5 separate regions of the Homo sapiens genome follow, and regions 1, 2, 3 and 4 are each linked to region 5. A link means that fine-mapping ties the variant in region 5 to the plasma level of a protein whose gene starts in the linked region. Region 5 holds a variant in brackets. A gene starts in each other region. All regions are shown on their forward strands.

Region 1 (4,113 bases), not on the chromosome of region 5:
AAATATGAGGCATAGAGAAATTAAGTGACCTGTCCAAAGTCATTGCCAGGCTGAGCTCAGACTTTGTGCTGTTAACCTCTAGTTTATAACCCTGAGTGACACTCAAAGGTGGCCTACTCAACTCTCTCTTAAAGAAATAACTTGCTGGCCAGCGGCAAGGAGTGCAGTTAGCTGACAGCCTCTACTGATAACCTCCTCGGGCTCTGCTTCAGCTTTCAACCAGAGACCATGTTGTTTCTGAGGAGGCCCAGCTAAGGACCGAGCACGGTTGGGGTAGAAGAGTCTGAACATTTCTGCCCACCATGGGCCCCTCTAATAAACAGTCTTTCCTCTGGAGCTCCCCACTGAGCTGTTGTAGACTTCACCAGATCAGCATTGCAATCTGAGGCTCCCCCTGCCCAATTCAGCCTCCTTCCTCCTTCTGTCTATCGCAGGAGTTGTTCTGAATAACCTTCTTTTACTCCAATGTCCATCTCAGCATCTGCTTTGCAGAGGACACAACTGGCACACCCTGCCTTCATATATTTGGATTGCCATCATATAGAAGACTGTTTAGAATTGTTTTGTGTTGTGATAAGGGGTTGAATTAGGACAAAATTCAACCCCTTATCACAACACAAGCATAAACAAACTGCTAGGGAAGCAGCTTTCACATATACATAAGGAAGAACATCGTAACAACTAGAAGTGCCAAACAATAGAATAACCTGCCTCAAGATCAATGAGTGCCCTGTCACTGCGTTCAGGCTGACTGGAGAACTGCTTTTGTGTGAAGGTTGTGTGGCATTACCACTCCTCCACTTCTACCCCCATGAATACTGAGGCACCTGGGATGCTAAACATCCACAATGCTAATTGATTAGCAAAAACCAAATTGTTTAGGAAATCGCGCCAGGAAGCCCAAACCTCTGATTTCTTAGCAGATCAGTGGGTCTGGTTTGATACATCATCCTTGTCCACTTCCAGGGCAGTTTAGTGGTACTCTAGGCCAGACTAGCCAGTCTACATACTTTTTTTTTAATCAAAGAGCTTCTAGAAAATGGGATAAGCTGTGGGCTGATTGTCCCCATGGACTAGTTGGTGGGATCAAAACCTAACTTCACATATGTTTATGTCAGACTGTAATATGGGGTTCACCCTCTAATGCAGTTCTAATGACTCCCTCCCCTGCCACATGGTTCTCAAGCTCATGGACTTGCACACGACAGCCAGAGAGATTCTCTTCCTCAAGGCTGTTGTCTCCCTCCCTTCATGCAGACACAGGCACACAAAGCAGGGGACTCCTACTGCCCCCTTCTAAGAATTCCATGATGGTCAGATTATATAAGTAATCATATATTTCAGATAGCAAAATAAGAGATGGAAAAGACTGGTAGGAAAATCAATAGCATAATCAGCGTTAGGATCTGTATATAAAGAGACATTCATTTGCTGTGCAAATATTTACTGAGCACCTACCAAAGGCCGGAATCCCTTCCACATGCTAGGGACGTGATGCGCTCGACGGAGTCCCCAATGTCATGGAGTATATATCTAATGCCACTGAGAAACCTGGCTCACCCTGCACTGAGAGAAGCACTCAAAACCACCATCACCAATAGCGCTACTAAAGACAGTGCTTTGGAGCTTCCAAGCTGATAGATTATCCTTTCTCCCCACCCTCAGATTTCTCCAGTGTCTCTGGCACTTATAGTCCATGTTTGCAAGAAATATTTTATTATAGTGCTCTGAAACAAATTTATAAAGTTTGCAAGAGAAGTTTTAAAAAAGCAAGCTCAGCAATATTTGGGGGCTTTTAAAGCTGATGATGCAGCTGACCTACTGGAGACAAAGGCAGTGGGAGGGCCCTTACTGGTATAAATAAATAGGAGTCTCTGGTACTGCAAACCCACAGCCTGGACTCAGAGCTCAAGTCTGAACTCTACCTCCAGACAGAATGAAGTTCATCTCGACATCTCTGCTTCTCATGCTGCTGGTCAGCAGCCTCTCTCCAGTCCAAGGTGAGAAATTTCATTTACATTTCACTGTTTGTTGAACAGAAATAGTCTTTAACCACTTCAATTTTCTTTCGATTAAAAACCGCAGGGAAGTCTGACTAAAGGGGGAAAAAACTGCTCTGTTCCTTCTAGATTTCTCAAAGTAAGGTGTTTAGGAATTTAACTCTTCAAAACTGGAAGTATTTATATTGTTAAGATTTTTATTTATAGCAAAAAGAGATACCACAAGTCCAATATTCATGTGAATTATATATTCCCAGCCTTTTTCTGATTCAGCTCCTGCTATATATAATTCTTTACATGTAGCTCTTCTTTGTTCTGCCTCTCAATGTTACCCACTCTGACCAAACCCTATACAGGGTTTAAAGATTATTGAACTCTACTGGTCTCTTGCAGTGAACATGCTTCATGTAACTCCAAATGGTTAGATCTGACATCAAGTACACCACTGTCAGTACACCAGGGGTATTTACACACATTCTGCAAAGAAGCAGACTTCCATGTCTAAGTGGGGCAGCTATCTTTGTGTCAATAGATAAATATCCAGTTGAAGTAGTAAGTTTTTATGTGGCCGAAGAAATGGATATGTGCAGAAAGAAGCCTTCTGCTCAGATTTAGAAGGCCAAATTTTTGTTCTTAAAACACAGAGGAGCTTTGTCCCCCAGTTTTAATTTTGCTTCACATGTTATTTTCACTCTTCAAAACCCTAATTTCTTGCATTCTCCACGGGGCTTTCCCATGGCTCCCGGCAGAGGTAGCTCTTAGTACATCTTCTGTTCTCAGCATGCATGTTAGATTTTGAGCGTAATACAACCTTCTGTGGTATTTTAGTTTTTGTTTGCTTGTTTCCCCTACTAACTTGTACACACCTTGAGAGGTGAGCCTTTTTATTTATAAATGTATGTCAAGCACAGTAGTAGGCTGGATAGAAAAGATCTGATAAATGTCTTTGGCTTAGATTTCATTAGATCCCATTAAAATTCATGAGATGGATACTAATGGTACCCATCCAGTATTAATTGCTTTTGTTAAATAAAAAGACTTTTGAATTTTTATGATTGCCTTTTGTTCTGTAATGATTTGCAACCCAGACAGAGGACCAACATATCAAACAAAAACGTCTGTGACATTTTCTGAGAGGAAAGGGGAGGATGGCAGAGAGTCTGATAGAGAAAACTCTGTTCCAGCATGTTATTGCTCCCAGGACTCTTGAGCCAGGTCATGTCCTCGGTTTTTATGTGTTGGGAGTGAAGATAATCCACTGGTTTTATATTGCATTAATTATAACTGAGTTGTAAGTCCCTACAGAGGCTGTTCTCAAATTTTATTATGTGGACTATCACCTGAGTACAAATATAACACTATCACAAATTTCAAAATTGCTGTGTTTTTTTGAAAGCTAATTTTTGTTTTGTTTTCTTTTTGCTTTGTTTGTTTGCTTTCTGAGATGGGGTCTCCGTTTGTTGCCCAGGCTGGTCTCAAACTCCTGGGTTCAACCAATCCTCCCACCTTGGCCTTCCAAAGTGCTGGGATTACAGGTGTAAGCCACTGTGCCTGGCCTAAAAGCTAACTTTATTTTTAAAGTTTTGGTAGAAAACATTTGAAAATACTCAAGCCAAGACAAGCAGAAATATACAAACTAAAGACATATGGGTGGAAGCACTGACTTGAAACTTTTAAGTCTTCAAATGCACGTTATGAAAGATTAGTAATTAAATTCTAGTTATGAATTACATGCCAATGGATTAAAATAACTGATTCTGTGTTTACTTACAGGTGTTCTGGAGGTCTATTACACAAGCTTGAGGTGTAGATGTGTCCAAGAGAGCTCAGTCTTTATCCCTAGACGCTTCATTGATCGAATTCAAATCTTGCCCCGTGGGAATGGTTGTCCAAGAAAAGAAATCATGTAAGTTTCAAGAGAAAAATAAATAAGATTTCCTTCTCCCAATGAAATCAGATCAAATGTTACCATACAGTAGTCTTACTCAAGAATGTCGAAGAGATTTACTTGAGTGTTGCTAAAAATTCTCAAACTAATAATGAAAATTGTTAATAATTAAGAGCTTAGTTTGCAGCAGCCCTGAGCTAAGTGCTTTACATGCACATACTCATT
Region 2 (4,118 bases), not on the chromosome of region 5:
AAGACAGAACCGCCGTCTCCAACCAGTGGCCAGCGTGGTGTCCTGGACCCCACCCCACTCCGGTCAGCTTTCTAATTTTAACACGAGACCCCCACGGGGCTCCTCTGGGCTGGCCCCCAGGTCTCCTGAGCCCCAGGGCTTCCCAGCAGAGCCTTCCCCAGGCAGGGCTGGGTCGGACCCTGGGGTGCCTCTGAAGAAGGAGAGTGGAAGTGGCTTGGACCCCCCCACCAAGCCCAAGCCAAGCGGGACCCCCACTCCAGCCCCAGACAAACAGCAGGGACCGAGGGGAGTGGCCACGCCTAGACTCTGTGTCTGTCTGAGGCCCCCTCCCCTTCCCACGGCCACACAGCACGCCGGCACACTCCAACATGCACGCACAGTCCTCAGAGATCCCCACACACAGGCTCACACCTGCACACGTGCACACGCGGGCCCAGCGCCTGGGCGCTCCCTCCTCTGCCCGCACACTCCAACCTGCACGCACAGACCTCAGAGATCCCCCCTCAGACACTCACACCTGCACACGCGCACACGCGCACACGCGGGCCCAGCGCCTGGGCTGCTCCCTCCCCCTCAGGTCGCTTTGGTGCTGGTCCCCCTCCCTCCCCGCCGAGGCCACTTCCACCCTGAGAGTTCCAGAGCCTGCAGAGGAGGCGGCGGGTACCAGGGTTTTCCTCTGGGGCTTTGGCGCCCCCCACGCTGCTCTCAGGAGAGGGAACAATCTTTGGGGTGCAGGTGGCAGCTGGGGCTCACACTGACCTGTGTCCTCGCCAGCACACACGCCACCCCCAGGCCCAGCCCGAGGAGGAAGGAGATCACCGCCAGGGCCGCAGGGAGGGCAGAGGCTGCTGGCGGGTCAGGGAGGGCAGAGGCTGTCTGCGGGTCAGGGAGGGCGGAGCCTGTCGGTGGGGCAGGGAGGGCAGAGGCCCTTGGTGGGGCGTCCGAGCATCTGTGCCATCCTTGGGACTGTTCCTCTGAGAAGGAAAAAAGAAGGAAGGGATTCTCCCGGTGGAGAACCTGTTAGAGCCCCCGGGGTTTGGGATTCGGGGCAGGGAAAGGCTGTGGAGGGGAGGAGGGGCAGCTATCTAGGAGGCTGCTGGGGGCAGTGGGCTGGGAGCTGGAACAGTTCAGGCACATGTAGGAGGGAGGGTCCCACGACAAGGGCTGGGGGAGCAGAGCCTGGCCAGCAGCTGGGGTTGGGAGGGGGGTCTGGGATGGGCACATTCCCTACCTGTCACCAGGACCAGGGTGCCGGAGCCGTAGACATTGACCTCCGTGATGGCCTGGCAGGTGTAGGTGCCAGTGTCCGACAGCTGCAGGCGGTGCATGGTGATAGTCAGGTTGTCCTGGGACCCTGAGAAGTCGATGCGGCCCCGGAACCGTCTGTCCGTAGTGGGCACCACCCCGTCCTCGTAGTAAATGATGTCTTGGGGCTGTGGCCCGAGCTGCCTCAGGTAGATCCCACGCAGGCCCCCGCTGGTGGAGCAGGTGATGTTGACGGAGGCTCCCACGGGGACAGTCGTGCAGTGGGGAGACTGCTGCACCTCTGGGGAGGACCTGGGCTGTCACCATCAGTCTGGCCAGAAGGACAGAGAATGTCCTCCCTGCAGGGGACAGTGGTGGGGATGGTGGGGCCCTGAGACAGCCCAGGGCTGACATGTCGCCAAAGACACGGTGCCTTACGGGGCATGGAGCAGATCTGGGCACCGGCTGTGGTGTTGGGGGAGGTGCTGTCCTCGTGTTCCGAGACTGTGGGCTTCTTCCTCCCAAAGCAGCGGCCCTGCCTGGACAGCCCCGGCCACTCCCCACCGGGGTCCACCCTTTTTCCTTCTCTTAAATGAGTCCTCAGACACTGGAGGCCGCTCAGCACCCCACCCGCTTCCTGGGGGCTGTGCTGTGGCTCAGACTGGGGGCTCTGAGCTCATGGGGCAGGGAGAGCTCTGGAGCTGTGGCCATGGAGAGCCTGGGAAGCTCTTACCTTGGGCAGCCAGGGCCCCAGGCAGGCCGCGAGCCAGCGCCAGAAGCAGGGGCAGCAGCAGGAGCCTCGGAGGCCCGGCCATGTTCCCCACACCCAGCTCTCCCAGCCGGGCGAGTGCAGCTGAGCCTCTCTGGGTCTACAGGACCCCACAGAGAGCAGCACACAGGAGACCGCAGGCGCTCAGAGCTCAGAGAGGGCTTCCTGGAGGCGGTGCCTCAGACCAGGGTGGTGCTGTGGGCCCGGTGGGAGGGGCGGTCTCACCTACCCCTCCCCAGCACTGCCTCCCTGAGAGCTGCCCTGAGAGCAGGGCGTCCCTGTATCCCCCACTGCCCCTGCATCTCCACAGGGAGGAGGTCAAGGCCTGGGGCGGGGCAGACCAGAGGACAGAGAAGGGACTCCCTGGCTGGGGACGGGTGGCAGGGTCTGGAAGTGAGCGGCAGAGCTGGCCCCCAGCCTGCCTGGTCCTCTGGGGTACTTTCTGCTGGGACCCAATTTATGCCCAGAAATCTGGAGCCACCCATGACCCATGAGTCACCCACACAGTGCAGAGGAGCACAGGGCAGGCCAGAATTGGCACCCCCTGGTTTGGCCGTGGGGAAGGAGCCTGGGCCTGCACCCGCACCCAACGCTGCAGCCGACCAGCTGACCGTGGCTCTGCGTTCCATGTCCTGGAGGCGGGAGGTCTGAGGTATGGTCCAGGCCTGAGGTTTCCCGACCTCCCTGGGAGGAGTGCGTCAGGCCGCAGTGCCCAGCTTCAGGGGCTGAGGGAGACCTGTGCCTGGGCTCTGACCCCAGGGTGACTGAGTCCTCTGGGAGGGGGCACTTCTCTGTCCTGAGGGCCTCCCGCCACAATGACGAAGCGTTGACGTTGGTGCCCAAAGCCAGTAGGTGCAGCACATGAGCAGGAGTGTGTGGACACGTGTGTGTGCAGAGACGGGTGCGTATGGACATGTGTGTGCAGAGACGGGTGCGTGTGGACACGTGTGTGTGCAGAGACGGGTGCGTGTGGACACGTGTGTGTGCAGAGACGGATGCGTGTGGACACGTGCGTGTGCAGAGGCGGGTGCGTGTGGACGTGTGTGTGCAGAGACGTGTGCGTGTGGACGTGCGTGTACAGAGACGGCTGTGTGTGGACACTTGTGTGTGCAGAGACGGGTGCGTGTGACTCCATGCGTGTGTGCAGAGACGGGTGCGTGTGGACACGTGTGTGCAGAGACGGGTGTGTGTGGACACGCATGTGCAGAGATGGGTGCGTGTGGACACGTGCGTGTGCAGAGACGTGTGCGTGTGGATGTGCGTGTGCAGAGACGGGTGTGTGTGGACACGTGTGTGCAGAGACGGGTGCACTTGACTCCATGCGTGTGTGCAGAGACGGGTGCGTGTGGACACGCGTGTGTGCAGAGACGGGTGTGTGTGGACACGCATGTGCAGAGACGGGTGCGTGTGAACACGTGTGTGTGCAGATGGGTGCGCATGACTCCACGCGTGTGTGCAGAGACGGATGTGTGTGGACACGCGTGTGTGCAGAGACGGGTGTGTGTGGACACGCATGTGCAGAGACGGGTGTGTGTGGACACTTTGTGCAGAGACGGGTGCGCGTGACTCCATGCGTGTGTGCAGAGACGGGTGCGTGTGGACACGCGGGTGTGCAGAGACGGGTGCGTGTGGACACGTGCGTGTGTAGAGACGTGTGCGTGTGGACGTGCGTGTGCAGAGACGGGTGTGTGGACACTTGTGTGTGCAGAGACGGGTGCGCGTGACTCCATGCATGTGTGCAGAGACGGGTGCATGTGGACACGCGTGTGTGCAGAGATGGATGTGTGTGGACACGCATGTGCAGAGACGGGTGCGTGTGGACACGTGTGTGTGCAGAGATGGGTGCGCATGACTCCACGCGTGTGTGCAGAGACGGGTGCGCGTGATTCCACGCATGTGTGTGCAGAGACGGGTGCGTGTGGACACGCGTGTGTGCAGAGACGGGTGCGCATGGCTCCACGCATGTGCAGAGACGGGTGTGCGTGACTCCACACGTGTTTGCAGAGACGGGTGCATGTGAACACGTGTGTGTGCAGAGACGGGTGTGCGTGACTCGCGTGTGTGCAGAGACGGGTGCGCGTGACTCCACACATGTATGCAGAGA
Region 3 (4,103 bases), not on the chromosome of region 5:
GCAATCTCTGCCTCCTGGGTTCAAGCAATTCTTGTGCTACAGCCTCCTGAGTAGCTGGGACTACAGGCATGTGCCACCTCACCTGGCTAATTTTTGTATTTTTAATAGAGACAGGGTTTCACTGTGTTAGCCAGGCTAGTCTTGAACTCCTGGCCTCAAGCCATCAGACTGCCTTAGCTTCCCAAAGTGCTGAGCCTTAATCTACTGTTTAATCTGTACACTGGGCTTCTATTTTCAAAAATTATGTTTTTACATAACTGCTTGCTTTTTTTCCCTCAATCTTCCTGGTCACTTTAAATAGTCTCTTGTTCCTTATCTATACTTTCAATTACCAACTTTTAATTCTTGAAGCATATGAAACATCCTTATTTTATATTATATATACTGCAATTCCAACATCTGAGATGTGTTCGAAGGTCTGCATTTTTAGTTTATTGCTTGGTGCTCCTCTCACCTAAAGCACCTTGTGTCCTGTGTTTTATGATTTTTCTGTTTTACAAACATGTGAACTCATGTTCCATGGGAGTTTTTCTGTGGGATTTCTTTGAGTCATGAATATAGGATGAGTTACTCCAGAGACAATTTTTATCATTTGTTTCTGCCACGTGCCTAAGGAGCTATTATTTACCTTACTTTAAATTCTTATCTTATCTTTTTGTTTGTTTGTTTTTTGTGTGGTTGTTTTTGCCACAAAGTCACCATGAGTTTCACCTCCAGGCCTATTAGTGGGTAGACTTGTGGTGAGGGGCATTCAGGGTTGACATTTATTTTTCTCCCACTCAGAGTCCATACTGAGTTGGGCAAGCTCTGTGTCAGCTCGCTTTAAGGAATTTTTCTCTCCGAGTTCTCCACTGTGGATGTTGTATTTCAGTGCTCTTTGTTTAAGGCAGAAATTTTGGATTTTGTTTTTCACTTCGATTTTGTTTCTCAGCTTTAACTTTTGTCCATGTTCATAAGACTGAAGCTCTTGGTCAACTGGATCAACAGATACTTCTCTGCTGGCTGTGATCTCTTTGGATTTTTGTTGTCTTTATATATTAACATATACAAGGTCTCACTCTGTTGCCCAGGCTGGAGTACAGCAGTGCAATCTTGGCTTATTAAAGCCTTGACCTCCTGGGCTCAAGCGATCCTCCCACCTCAGCCTCCTGAGTAGCTGAGACCGCAGGTGTGTGCCACCAAACCTGGCTAATTTTTTGCACCTTTTGCAGAGAGAGGGTTTCACCATGTTGCCCAGGCTTATTGTCGTTTTTGATCTCTGATGATTTTCTTCATTTCTCACCACCTCAGCTACACATTTTAAAAGATGGTTTACAATATTTTTGTGGTGTTTTGTATTAGGAGAATTCTTCAGCATCTGCTGTCTACCATATTGTCAGAAATGGAGTCTAGCCATCCTTCCCGGCCCATTTCAAACGGGTTCCTCTTAGGACCAGGAGACCTCACATTATGTGTGTCCTACCTTGGCCTGTGGTTTGGTCACTTGTGTGTGTGTGAACTTCATCCTCCTTGAGGGCAGGAATATGGTTTCCTCTCTTTCACTTCCACAGAGTCCTGTCCAGAGTTCTGCACACCAAGACTGTGTAAATGAATGGAATTGCATCTGGGAGCTCGAGGCACCCATGCAAACCTGTGCTGCCAGTGACTTCCACCAGAGGGCAGCGGCAGCAGGTGCCGGCGCTGGGGCAGGACTGGGAGGAGTCTCACTCTGGGGGCGCCTGGTTCCCCGTGGCTCTAATACTTGCCGCATCAAATGCATACACCCACATTTAGGACCGAACCCAATGGAGGAGGACCGCTCCTCATTCCACATGTTGGGGAAATGAAGACAAGCAAGGATGCAGGAAGTGGAGGGCCAGGAGAGGTGGACCTGGGATGGGACCAATTGAGGCAGGGCCAGGATTTGGAACCAAACCCCTTCTGGATTTGACCACTTCCAGGGCCCTGCTTGGACAACCAAATTATCTATTCCTTTTCTCATTCAATAAACATTTATTCACCTCCTACCATATGCTCCACAGGGAGTACCATGGGAATTAAACACGCTTGGCCCCTGCCTTCTTCCTATAGCGTCAGTCTGCTGCAGTGCAATGGGGCAACTCGGGGTTTCTCAGGCAGCCCTGGGCTTCCTTCCTTCAGCCCTTTGCTCCTGCTATTCCTTCTGGCCCAGAGGCCTCCCATGATTGCTGTTTGTCAAAATCCTGCTCAGCCTTGTAGACCCAGCTCCCATGCCTGACTCCCACGGAGGCATGCCCAGTCTGGTACCTGGAGATGGGATAGCTGGCCCCACTGTGCCATCTGACGGGGCGGCTCCCACAAGGCCTTGGCACCCTTCCCTGTAGAAGGACTTGTGGGATGGCCATCTCTCAGGCCCTTCCCAATTTATATTTCTCTGAGGGGAGACTTAGGCTCTTATCTCCAAAAGTGCATCAAGACCACACCCTCCTTCCCAACCACCATTGCACCTAAGGTTAAGATAAAACTCAGGATTTAATCCAAGAGAGCCAAATTACACGGACCGGGACAGGCAATGGGTCATTCACTCCCTCTTCCAATATGTACTGATTGAGCAGCTACTACATTATCAATTTTTTCTTCTGGGCCACCAGAAATGAGGCATGGCTCTTCCACTTCCCTTCTTCTTAGAAGACCCTCGGGGAAGTGTGTCTGCATGGATGCGTGTGCATGCGTGTGTCTGGCTCCGTGACTCTTGGGGTGCAGCCTGGATGGGTGGGCTCCCAGCACAGGCAGCTGGGGCTCTCCCCACCAGCCCCTGTAACAGCAGCCCAGCTTCCTGCAGACCAAAACCACAAGCAGAACAAGCAGGCGTGAGACACTCACAGGTTGGGTTTGATCGCATGCGTGTCGGAGAGGAGAGAGCAGAGAGAGACACAGGAACAAGAACAGCAAAGGGTAGAGCAGACCTGCGCCAGGGGCGCACAACGGCCGTGTCCACCTCCCGGCCCCAAGATGGTGCTTCCCACAGGCAGCCACGCGTAGCAGCCAGAGACAGCTCCAGACATGTGGCTCTTCTTCGGGATCACTGGATTGCTGACGGCAGCCCTCTCAGGTAGGCCCCCTTCCCTCATCTCCTGCCACTGGTGCTGGAGGAGCCGGGTCCGGCCCTCTCAGTCCCCTTTCTGGTTGTTTCCTTGTGGTCACTTTTCTAGGATCTTTTAGCCAAGACTACACTCAGGTACCAGGGAGGTCCAGCATCTGGGGCTAGGAGAGGACACAGGAGCCCCTCGAGGGGCTGGGGCTGTGCCTGGAAGCCTCCTGGAGTGACAGAATGTGGGAAGCATGCTTTGTGCCTTACCAATGGGTCCCTAGGGTGTGAGGAGGGAGGTGCCTCTCCCATCCTTAAGCTCAGGAACTCCCCCATTTCCTATTTCTTGCCAACTCTTAAGAAGGAACCGTTCACCTTCCAGAGAGGCAGGACCACTGATGGTGGTACTTTCAACGCCAAAGCTGAGGCTTGGGGTCCAGCAGGCGTAGGCCAATCACAGGAGAGCACCTCCCGAAACAGGACTCAGGGAAGCCAGGGAGAGTTCTGGACAACCAGGCGCTGATGGCCTCAGCACAACCAGCTGGGGTAGTCTAGGGCATAAGCGAGCATGAAGGCCACCCCCACGTCTCAAGCTGCCCCCAAGTGTCAAGGCACCTGGCCACCTGGGCCAGGGAATCAGATGGCCAGAAGGTTTGGGGCACTAGACTGTGCTCCCCAGATACTTGCTGGCCCCTGTTGAGTGCAGGGTCCAAGCTGGCCAGAGCGGGGCAGGGGCCTGGAGATGCAAGAGATCCTGACCCCATCGAGCTCTCACATTTTGGGATTTGGGAAGACTGGTATGGAAACAGAATTCGGGCCAGGGGAGTCTGGGTCCACCTTGCAGCCAGAGAGCCAAGTGCTTTCATTTTGTGATGGAGGAGACCCAGGAAGACCCAGTCAGGAGGGGGCATCGAGCTGGTTTGGAGGACTGGGTACATGTCGCGAGACTCTGGGCAGGGAGTGCTCTCCTCTCTGCCTTGATCTCCAGGCATGTGTTCCGAGCCTGTGGCCTCATACTGGTTCAGGGAAAGCCATTCGGCTCTGGGAACTGGAGTTT
Region 4 (4,118 bases), not on the chromosome of region 5:
CTCTCTACATGATTCTGTTGCAAGCAAACGTTAGAGAGTGAAAAATCCAAACCTTTTATTTTATAGATTAGGGAAACAAACAACTAAGCTGTAAAAGAGAACCCCCTGCCCAACAAGTGAGACCACATAGTAGGCATGATTTTACACATTACAATTTTTTTTTCTCCAAAATAAAATTTTTTAAATCCAGCAATCAGGGTGGATATATAATCTTTTGTATAATTGCCTATGAAGCCACAAACAAGTAATACATATGCCAGTAAAGTTGGTACAGCTGACCTACACCTAAAAATAGCCCAGAAATTCAAAGACCAAGTTTTCATTCCAAAATTTTTTATTTTGGAGAAAATAGAACGCATATCCTTTGTTCAAAGAGACAGCTAAGGAACAACACAGGACTTCAATGAAAAATATGTTGTTTATGTGTGTAGTTACTAGTCAGTATGCCCCACCTAGCCACAAATTAGTGTGGTTACTCTAAATTGCTAACATGAAAATCTTAACCTCCTACTTCTGAAGTTATTTGGTTTTAGCTACTCAATTTTTTTTTCTAGGCTTCCAAGGTTGCTGTTTTGGGCATGGTTTTAGAAATATAATTATAAGTTTGATTTCAAACTTCTGGACCATGTAATCAAGCACAGACTGGTCATAGTGGAAAATATACAATTTTTAGCTCTGCCTACATTGACAAAAAAAAAAATGGCTGGATCCACATCAATTCAACTTGAGTGCCATGTGTTTACAGTGACAGTTTCTCCCCGAAAACGCAAAAAAAAAAAAAAAAAAAAAAAGAAGATCCATGCTGCTGTAGTATATGTACATAGGGGTGTTTAAAGCCAGCCCCTCCAGCAGCACCTTACCAACCATGTCTGTGCTTTTATTTATTGATCCAATAAGATGACTTAAATATCTAACTCCTTTTCCACGTAAAAGTTTTTATTATGTGCAATGCATTGTTAAACAGGTGAAGAATGAACAAGTTTAGAAAAACAAAGAAGCTTAACATGGAAAATTACCCGCATGGTGTCCACTTTTCCTGCTCGGTTGCAATACCCAATGGATTATTTATTAATTTAGATTTGTGCTGTCCCTGAATCCAAACAGCAGCCTCTTTAGAGTAACATCTGCTCCAGACATTGCTCCAGGAATATAAATCCCGACTAAGGGGTGGATATTTAAAGCTGTAAATGATTTTTTATTTTTACAATAGCTTTGCAAAAGGAACGGAGGTGTCATGTCATCATCAGAGTTTTCTTAACAGGATTTAATCTTAATGCCAAACTAAATCCTTTGTCTAAAGCATCAGCAGAGTTGTACTTATTTTCCCCATAGTATTAAAGAGGAGGGCTGGTGCAGGCACAGCCATATGACATTGCCTTATTTATTTTGTCTGTTTGTTTTCTGGAAGAATCTAGGAATGTGCATAAATACAATTAAGGACAGTATCTACAAATTGGAAGAAAGCATTTCTATTCTCTTAAACCTCTAAATCAAAGCACTTAATGTTCTGATTTCCAGCAAGACCTTCTAATAAATGAAAACCCAACCCTTGGGTTTGTGTTTTGACTCTTGATACAATTATGAAAGACGCATCAGGAGATGGCAAGTGGCTGCCAGTACTTCCTTTTTTCTGGAATATTCTCTAATTCTTGGTGGATCAAGATGGAAACTGGTAGGCTTGGAATAGATGTCCCTTTAAAAGGCTCCACTAACAATACAAGAATATTTTTTCCATACGCAGTGACGTGGGTGGGTCATGGGTGTCTCAATGACAGTAACGTTCCCGAACCCCGGACCTTAGCTGTCATTTCACCTGCGTCGTCCCGGACGCCATTTGGCTGTTGACGTGGTTCCGAGCCAGCAAATAACGCCAGCAGCCCTCCCAGATCCACGCCGGCCCGTCTCTCCGCCGGCCCCCTCCTCGCAGTGGTTTCTCCTGCAGCTCCCCTGGGCTCCGCGGCCAGTAGTGCAGCCCGTGGAGCCGCGGCTTTGCCCGTCTCCTCTGGGTGGCCCCAGTGCGCGGGCTGACACTCATTCAGCCGGGGAAGGTGAGGCGAGTAGAGGCTGGTGCGGAACTTGCCGCCCCCAGCAGCGCCGGCGGGCTAAGCCCAGGGCCGGGCAGACAAAAGAGGCCGCCCGCGTAGGAAGGCACGGCCGGCGGCGGCGGAGCGCAGCGATGGCCGGGCGAGGGGGCAGCGCGCTGCTGGCTCTGTGCGGGGCACTGGCTGCCTGCGGGTGGCTCCTGGGCGCCGAAGCCCAGGAGCCCGGGGCGCCCGCGGCGGGCATGAGGCGGCGCCGGCGGCTGCAGCAAGAGGACGGCATCTCCTTCGAGTACCACCGCTACCCCGAGCTGCGCGAGGCGCTCGTGTCCGTGTGGCTGCAGTGCACCGCCATCAGCAGGATTTACACGGTGGGGCGCAGCTTCGAGGGCCGGGAGCTCCTGGTCATCGAGCTGTCCGACAACCCTGGCGTCCATGAGCCTGGTAAGGGCGCTGCCCCCTGACAGCCCTGGGGGCATCCCGGAGGGGGGCGGCAGAGGGTGGGACTGGTGGCGGTGGGGGAAGGAGGGAGGGATGGGCCCAGGGGTGCCTCTTGGTAAAAGGTATCTAAGGTGGAAGGTGGGAAGTGGAGGGAGGGATGGAAATGGGGAAGAACCCGACTTAGAGCGCCAGTGGCCCAATTTCTGCTTTCCCGTCCCATCCCCCCAGCACCAATCCCATCTCCCCAGACCTTAGGCCACCCTCTAGTAAGTATAGGCTTGGGAGGCTGGGGTGGCGGGGGATGGGGGGGATAGCAATACAGAAAAAACAAATCCTGACGCACGCAACCCCAGCGGTCGCTCTCACTTTGCTGTGTGAAAAACCCAAAGGAATGATTGCGAGTCCCCCGCAAGGGGGGTTGGTCTTCCTTGCTGACAAGAGTAGAAAGATAAGGTGCAGAAGGCAGTGATTGAGAGGAAAGGAGAACGAGGGAGAAAGAGTCATTTATCATGTTTTCTCTAATTTCCAGAGGACCAGTTTATTGGCTCTGTGTACCCATCTCTACCTGTGTGTGTATACGTATTAGGTACACTCGCTGCTGTGGATGCTTGGGGAATCTTAGGGATATTGCCAATCTGGGGTGGTGGTGTATAAAGATACGTTGGTGCCCCTCCTCCTACCAGGGTGAAAAGTGGTTTCTGACTTTTGAAACCAGATTTTGAAACTGCACAAGGCCTTTCCAAGGAAAAAGGAGTATTCCATTTTCTCTGCTATAACCATTTGAGATGAATAGTTTGTGATGGGGTCTTTATTCCAACTGATGTTCCCAAATAACCATCTGTATTCGTCTTTCCTAGGAGTATATTAAAGCACCTTTTGGTTTATGTTAATTGTGATGCATTTAGTATTAATAAAGAGGTATTTAAAAATGTTCTTGGGACTTTTTTCGTTATGTTTCTGCTTAGGAAATAATTTGGGCCTGGTCTTCTGATAATCAAGGTACAGCTAAAGTAATCTGTGCTAATAATATCAGCATGGGATGGATGCTTAATTTTTGTTTAATGACAAAGCAAGCAAGAAAAGTAGGCTAAAAATTCTCAGTGCAGGGCCAGTATAGTTTTATAATGATACGTAAGAACCAAACTGAGAAGAGATTAAAATAAGTGATCAATAGACATTTTGATCTTCAAATATATAGTAGGTGGGTTGATCAAGAATAAATCTTCAGGAAATATTTCTTACCTTCAAATAATATAAGAAAAAAAGGTTCATGTAAGTTTGCTGTCAAAATTCTAAGATCAGATCCTAGAAAACATTTAATATTAACTACTCTTATCTACCAGGATTCAGCATGTAGGATTGGACATTTTGAAACTTAGTTTCATACTGTTATCTGAAGACAGGGAAAAATTTAAAATGTGATAACTGATTTTCAGCTAAATCCAATAACCAAAGCCAAGATATCCTAGGCACAGTTAAAGCTAATGTAAGTATTTGTGAGTCTCCTGCTGCTTACTTAATGAGAACCCTTTGTTACTCTATTTTGTAGATTGATCCCAGAGTTTTTTGCGTTGTTACTTCAAGAGATTATATGAAAGCTAATGTTTAACTTTTTGTTGTTTCAAATTTGGAAATAAA
Region 5 (4,118 bases):
CTGCAGCCTCTGCCTCCCGGGTTCAAGTGATTTTCCAGTCTCAGCTTCCTGAGTAGCTGGGACTACAGGCACGCACCACCACACCTGGCTAATTTTTGTAATTTTAGTAGAGACGGTTTCACCATGTTGGCCAGGCTTGTCTTGAACTCCTGACAGGTGATTGACCCACCTCAGCCTCCTAAAGTGCTGGGATTACAGGCATGGCCACTGCGCCTGGCCAGTTATTTTGAACCCTATAACAATTGGCAGATCCTTTTATTCTGCCCCTGCTAGAGATGAGGAGACAGAGGTTCAAAGGAATTGTGCAACTTGCTTAAGATCACACAGCTTGTCAGTGAATTCAAACCTAAATTCAGAAGATCCCAGAGCTCTTTCTACTCCATGGCATGGATCGTTAAGATCACCTCTGTGAGGTACTGGCCTCCTCACCTAGGAAAGGAGGAAGATGATGAGGCTCATGTCACCAAGGAGAGCGTGCTGTGCCCTCAAGAAGTGCATGAGCTTCTGATGCTTCCAGAATAATCTCCGGGATGCCCCCCCGACTGCCTCTTAGGGGGTCAGGCTCCATGATGGGGGTGTCTGCCCTGTGGCCCTGGCTGCCTGTGGAGTGTCAAGCCAGCTGTGTGTCCGAGAGAGAGAGAGATTGTGTGTGTGTGTGTGTGTGTGTGTGTGTATGTGTGTGTGTGTACATATGCAAACAAGGAGGGCAGAGCTGGGGCTCAGGGCTGACCATATTTTTCCTCCTACCTGTGAGGGCAGATGTCTTACTGTGTTTTGTTTTGTTTTGCTTTTGAGACGGAGTTTTGCTCTTGTTGCCCAGGCTGGAGTGCAATGGCATTATCTCAGCTCACCGCAACCTCCGCCTCTCGGGTTAAAGCGATTCTCCTTCCTCAGCCTCCCAAGTAGCTGAGATTACAGGCATGCACCACTACACCTGGCTAATTTTGTATTTTTAGTAGAGATGGGGTTTCTCCATGTTGGTCAGGCTGGTCTAGAACTCCCAACTTCAGATGATCCGCCCGCCTCGGCCTCAAAGTGTTGGATTATAGGCTGAGCCACTGCCCCCAGCCAGATGTCTTCCTGTTAAAATGGGGCTTTAAATTCCTCACCTAACATCATTGTTTGCAACAACAGCAACAAAGAGCTTCCATAGACAGAGTCAGTGTCCCAGAACGGGGACTAAACAACCAAACATCTAGAATCTCACCAGTCAGTGACCCTGAAGGAGACCTCAGTCACAACCTTTGTTGGAGAGCAAGTGGAACTAGGGTTTTTTAAAGCCTGAAAGCACATCAGTTGTGCCCTAACAATGAAAGGTTTCAGAGTAGTTGAAAGCTAGGAATTTGAATATCTTAGAGGAAGTTAAGTGGCTTGAGGTGCTTCCACCGAAGGTCTCAGCACCATGAGAATGCCTGTGCTTCTGCCGGCCCCATTCCTGCCAGTGAGCCCACAGACAAGGGGCGATGAAGAACCAGGAAACAGATGGAAAGAAACGTGGAAGAGAGGAAAGCCTCAGACTGTCAGGGTGAAATCTAGGTTGAGAGTTAAGTTTTAGTTCATTCTTTGGAGAGACTGAGCCACAAGGAGCCATAATTACAATAGCGTTTCAGCACATCCAGGTGATCTTGGTCTGCAGTATTTGGTTGAGGACTGTGTGAAAGCAGCTGAGGCCAAATGTGGTGGCTCACACCTGTAATC[T/C]CAGCATTTTGGGAGGCTGACTTGGGTGGATCACTTGAGGCCAGGAGTTTGAGACCAGCCTGGCTAATATGGTGAAACCCTGTCTCCACTAAAAATACAAACATTAACCAGGCATGGTAGTGCATGCCTGTAATCCCAGCTACTTGGGAAGCTTGAGGCAGGAGAATCGCTTGAACCCAGGAGGCAGAGGTTGCAGTGAACTGAGATGGTACCACTGCACTGCAGCTTGGGCAACAGAGAGAGACTCCGTCTCAAAAAAAAAAAAAAAAAAAAAAAAAGCAGCTAAGGAAGGCTACTATGGTCACAAAAGACTTCCCAGAAGATGGGACTTGGGCTGGATCTTGATAGGGAAGATTTCCATAAGGAGAGAGGGCAGGACATGGGTGGAACAGGTGCACCAACAGTAGGGCACCAGGGATGAGAGAGCTGCTGGTTAGGATTATGGTGAGCACCACAGACCACAGACAAACCAGAATAAACGAACCTGTGGACCAGCGTGTCCTGCACTGAGACACACACCACGCACACCAACAGGGACGAAGCACGTTGCCCACATTGTATCGATGTATGCGAATGTGGATAAGTCAGCTCATTTTCTCCTTCCCCTCCCCACAACCAAGTTTACTGCTGCTCCTGGCTCCCCCATCCTGGGGAATAGCACATGGTAAGAACCTCAGCACCCACTCCACTCCTCTCGCCCTCATCTCCACACAGCTACCTGTCAATTCCACCTTCACACTCTTTCTGCCAACTGAGCCCTCCTCATCTCTCTGCCTCTGGCCTGCCTCCCCACTACAACTGAGTTTCCATGCAGTTCTCAGAGGAATCCCTCGAAGGCACATGTGCAACCTCATCACTTCCAGGCTGAAAGATCTTGGTTAAGAGAAATATTAGTACAAGCTATTAAGACTTAGGAGGCTGCCGGGCATGGTGGCACATGCCTGTAGTCTCAGCATTTTGGGAGGCCAAGGTGGGCTGACTGCTTGAGCCCAGGAGTTCAAGACCAGCATGGGCAACATAAAGAGACCCTATCTCTACAAAAAAAAAAAAAAAAAATTAGCTGGTGCCTTAGTCCGTTTTCATGCTGCTGATAAAGACATACCTGAGACTGGGCAATTTACAAAAGAGGTTTAGGCCAGGTGCGGTGGCTCATGCCTGTAATCCCAGCACTTTGGGAGGCCAAGGCAGGTGGATCACCTGAGGTCAGGAGTTCGAGACTAGCCTGGCCAACATGTTGAAACCCCATCTCTACTAAAAAATACAAAAATTAGCCAGTCGTGGTGGCACGTCTGTAATCCTAGCTACTTGGAAGGCTGAGGAAGGAGAATCGCTTGAATCTGGGAGGCGGAGTTTGCAGTGAGCCAAGATAGCACCACTGCACTGCAGCCTGAGTGACAGAGCTAGACTGTGTCTCAAAAAAAAAAAAAAAGAAAAGAAGTTTAATGGACTTATAGTTCCACATAGCTGGGGAGGCCTCACAATCACGGCAGAAGGCAAGGAGGAGCAAGTCACGTCTTACATAAATGGCCGCAGGCAGAAAAAGAGCTTGTGCAGGGAAACTCCCGTTTTTAAAACCATCAGATCTCGTGAGACTCATTCACTATCAAAAGAACAGTGCAGTAAAGACCTGCCCCCATAATTCAGTCACCTCCCACCAGGTTCTTCCCATAACATGTGGGAATTGTGGGAGTTACAATTCTAGATGAGATTTGGGTAGGGACGCAGTGAAACCATATCAGTCAGGCATGGTGGCATGCACCTGTAATCACAACTACTCAGGAGGCTGAGGTGGGAGGATCAATTGAGCCTGGGAGGTCGAGGCTGCAGCGAGTTGTGATTGTGCTACTGCACTCCAGCCTGGGTGACAGCGAGACCCTGGTCTTGGGGAAAAAAAACAAGAAGACTTAGAAAGCTACAGTGATGAAAACAGTGTCATACTGGCACACGCATACAGAGATCAATGACACAGAATATACAGTAGTTCAGAAATAGCTACTTACAGTTACTTAGTAGTAAAAAGATGACTGGCAGGATGTATTTGTGCCATATATGATAGACAAAATGTTAATTGCCTGGATACATATAAAGCACCTACAAATCAATTTCAGAAAGACCAACAATCCAATAGAAAAGTGAGCCAGAGACATGAGCAGCTAGTTCATAGCAGAGGAAACATGCATGACTTCATCTAGGCAGAGATGCTCAAGCTCACTCGTAAAAGAGAAGCAAATTAATGTGGTAGTGAAATGCCACTTTTTCGTCTCTCAGATTAGCAAAGCTAAAAAAAAAATCCTGAAACTTCTACTGGTGAGGGTGTAAGGAAACTCAGACATGACAGGTAGTGGGGCATAAATTAAACTTCTTTGGAGGGTAATATATCTGTATTTAAATTGTAAATATTCTTTGTTCCATTTCTACTA

Which allele goes with the higher level. Alleles are on the strand shown, and positions count from the first base shown. The strength of an association depends on the size of the effect and on how common the allele is.
For the plasma level of the protein whose gene starts at base 1,891 in region 1, C is the low allele of the variant in region 5 and T is the other (weak association).
As copies of C replace T in region 5, the plasma level of the protein whose gene starts at base 2,173 in region 2 goes down (moderate association).
For the plasma level of the protein whose gene starts at base 2,836 in region 3, allele T in region 5 goes with a higher level than allele C (moderate association).
For the plasma level of the protein whose gene starts at base 1,963 in region 4, C is the high allele of the variant in region 5 and T is the other (weak association).

What was found. A credible set is the group of variants that fine-mapping cannot tell apart. PIP is the posterior inclusion probability: the model's chance that the variant is causal. Protein levels are from antibody-based Olink assays in UK Biobank. Linkage for the fine-mapping came from a reference panel and not from the study's own genotypes, which makes the PIPs less certain.
Region 1: it holds the start of CXCL13, and the variant in region 5 is the best candidate, but not a certain one, in a credible set for the plasma level of the CXCL13 protein (UK Biobank, PIP 0.60).
Region 2: CD7 starts here. The variant in region 5 is the best candidate, but not a certain one, in a credible set for the plasma level of the CD7 protein (UK Biobank, PIP 0.57).
Region 3: CD6 starts here. The variant in region 5 is the best candidate, but not a certain one, in a credible set for the plasma level of the CD6 protein (UK Biobank, PIP 0.77).
Region 4: it holds the start of CPE, and the variant in region 5 is the best candidate, but not a certain one, in a credible set for the plasma level of the CPE protein (UK Biobank, PIP 0.68).

The regions. Positions count from the first base shown.
Region 1 is chr4:77,603,930-77,608,042 of GRCh38, forward strand. It overlaps CXCL13 (C-X-C motif chemokine ligand 13), which reads left to right and starts at 1,891. Exons shown (of 4, transcript NM_001371558.1): 1 at 1,891-2,000; 2 at 3,774-3,906. The coding sequence starts at 1,937.
Region 2 is chr17:82,315,436-82,319,553 of GRCh38, forward strand. It overlaps CD7 (CD7 molecule), which reads right to left and starts at 2,173. Exons shown (of 4, transcript NM_006137.7): 1 at 1,979-2,173; 2 at 1,232-1,546; 3 at 760-974. The coding sequence starts at 2,060.
Region 3 is chr11:60,968,845-60,972,947 of GRCh38, forward strand. It overlaps CD6 (CD6 molecule), which reads left to right and starts at 2,836. Exons shown (of 13, transcript NM_006725.5): 1 at 2,836-3,070. The coding sequence starts at 3,022.
Region 4 is chr4:165,377,046-165,381,163 of GRCh38, forward strand. It overlaps CPE (carboxypeptidase E), which reads left to right and starts at 1,963. Exons shown (of 9, transcript NM_001873.4): 1 at 1,963-2,483. The coding sequence starts at 2,177. RefSeq lists a silencer at 1,996-2,255 and an enhancer at 3,735-4,118.
Region 5 is chr12:111,760,648-111,764,765 of GRCh38, forward strand. No RefSeq gene overlaps it. Among named protein-coding and RNA genes, the nearest start is that of ALDH2, 4.2 kb to the right of the region's middle. RefSeq lists an enhancer at 1,017-1,552. The variant T/C (reference allele first, on the strand shown) is at 1,699.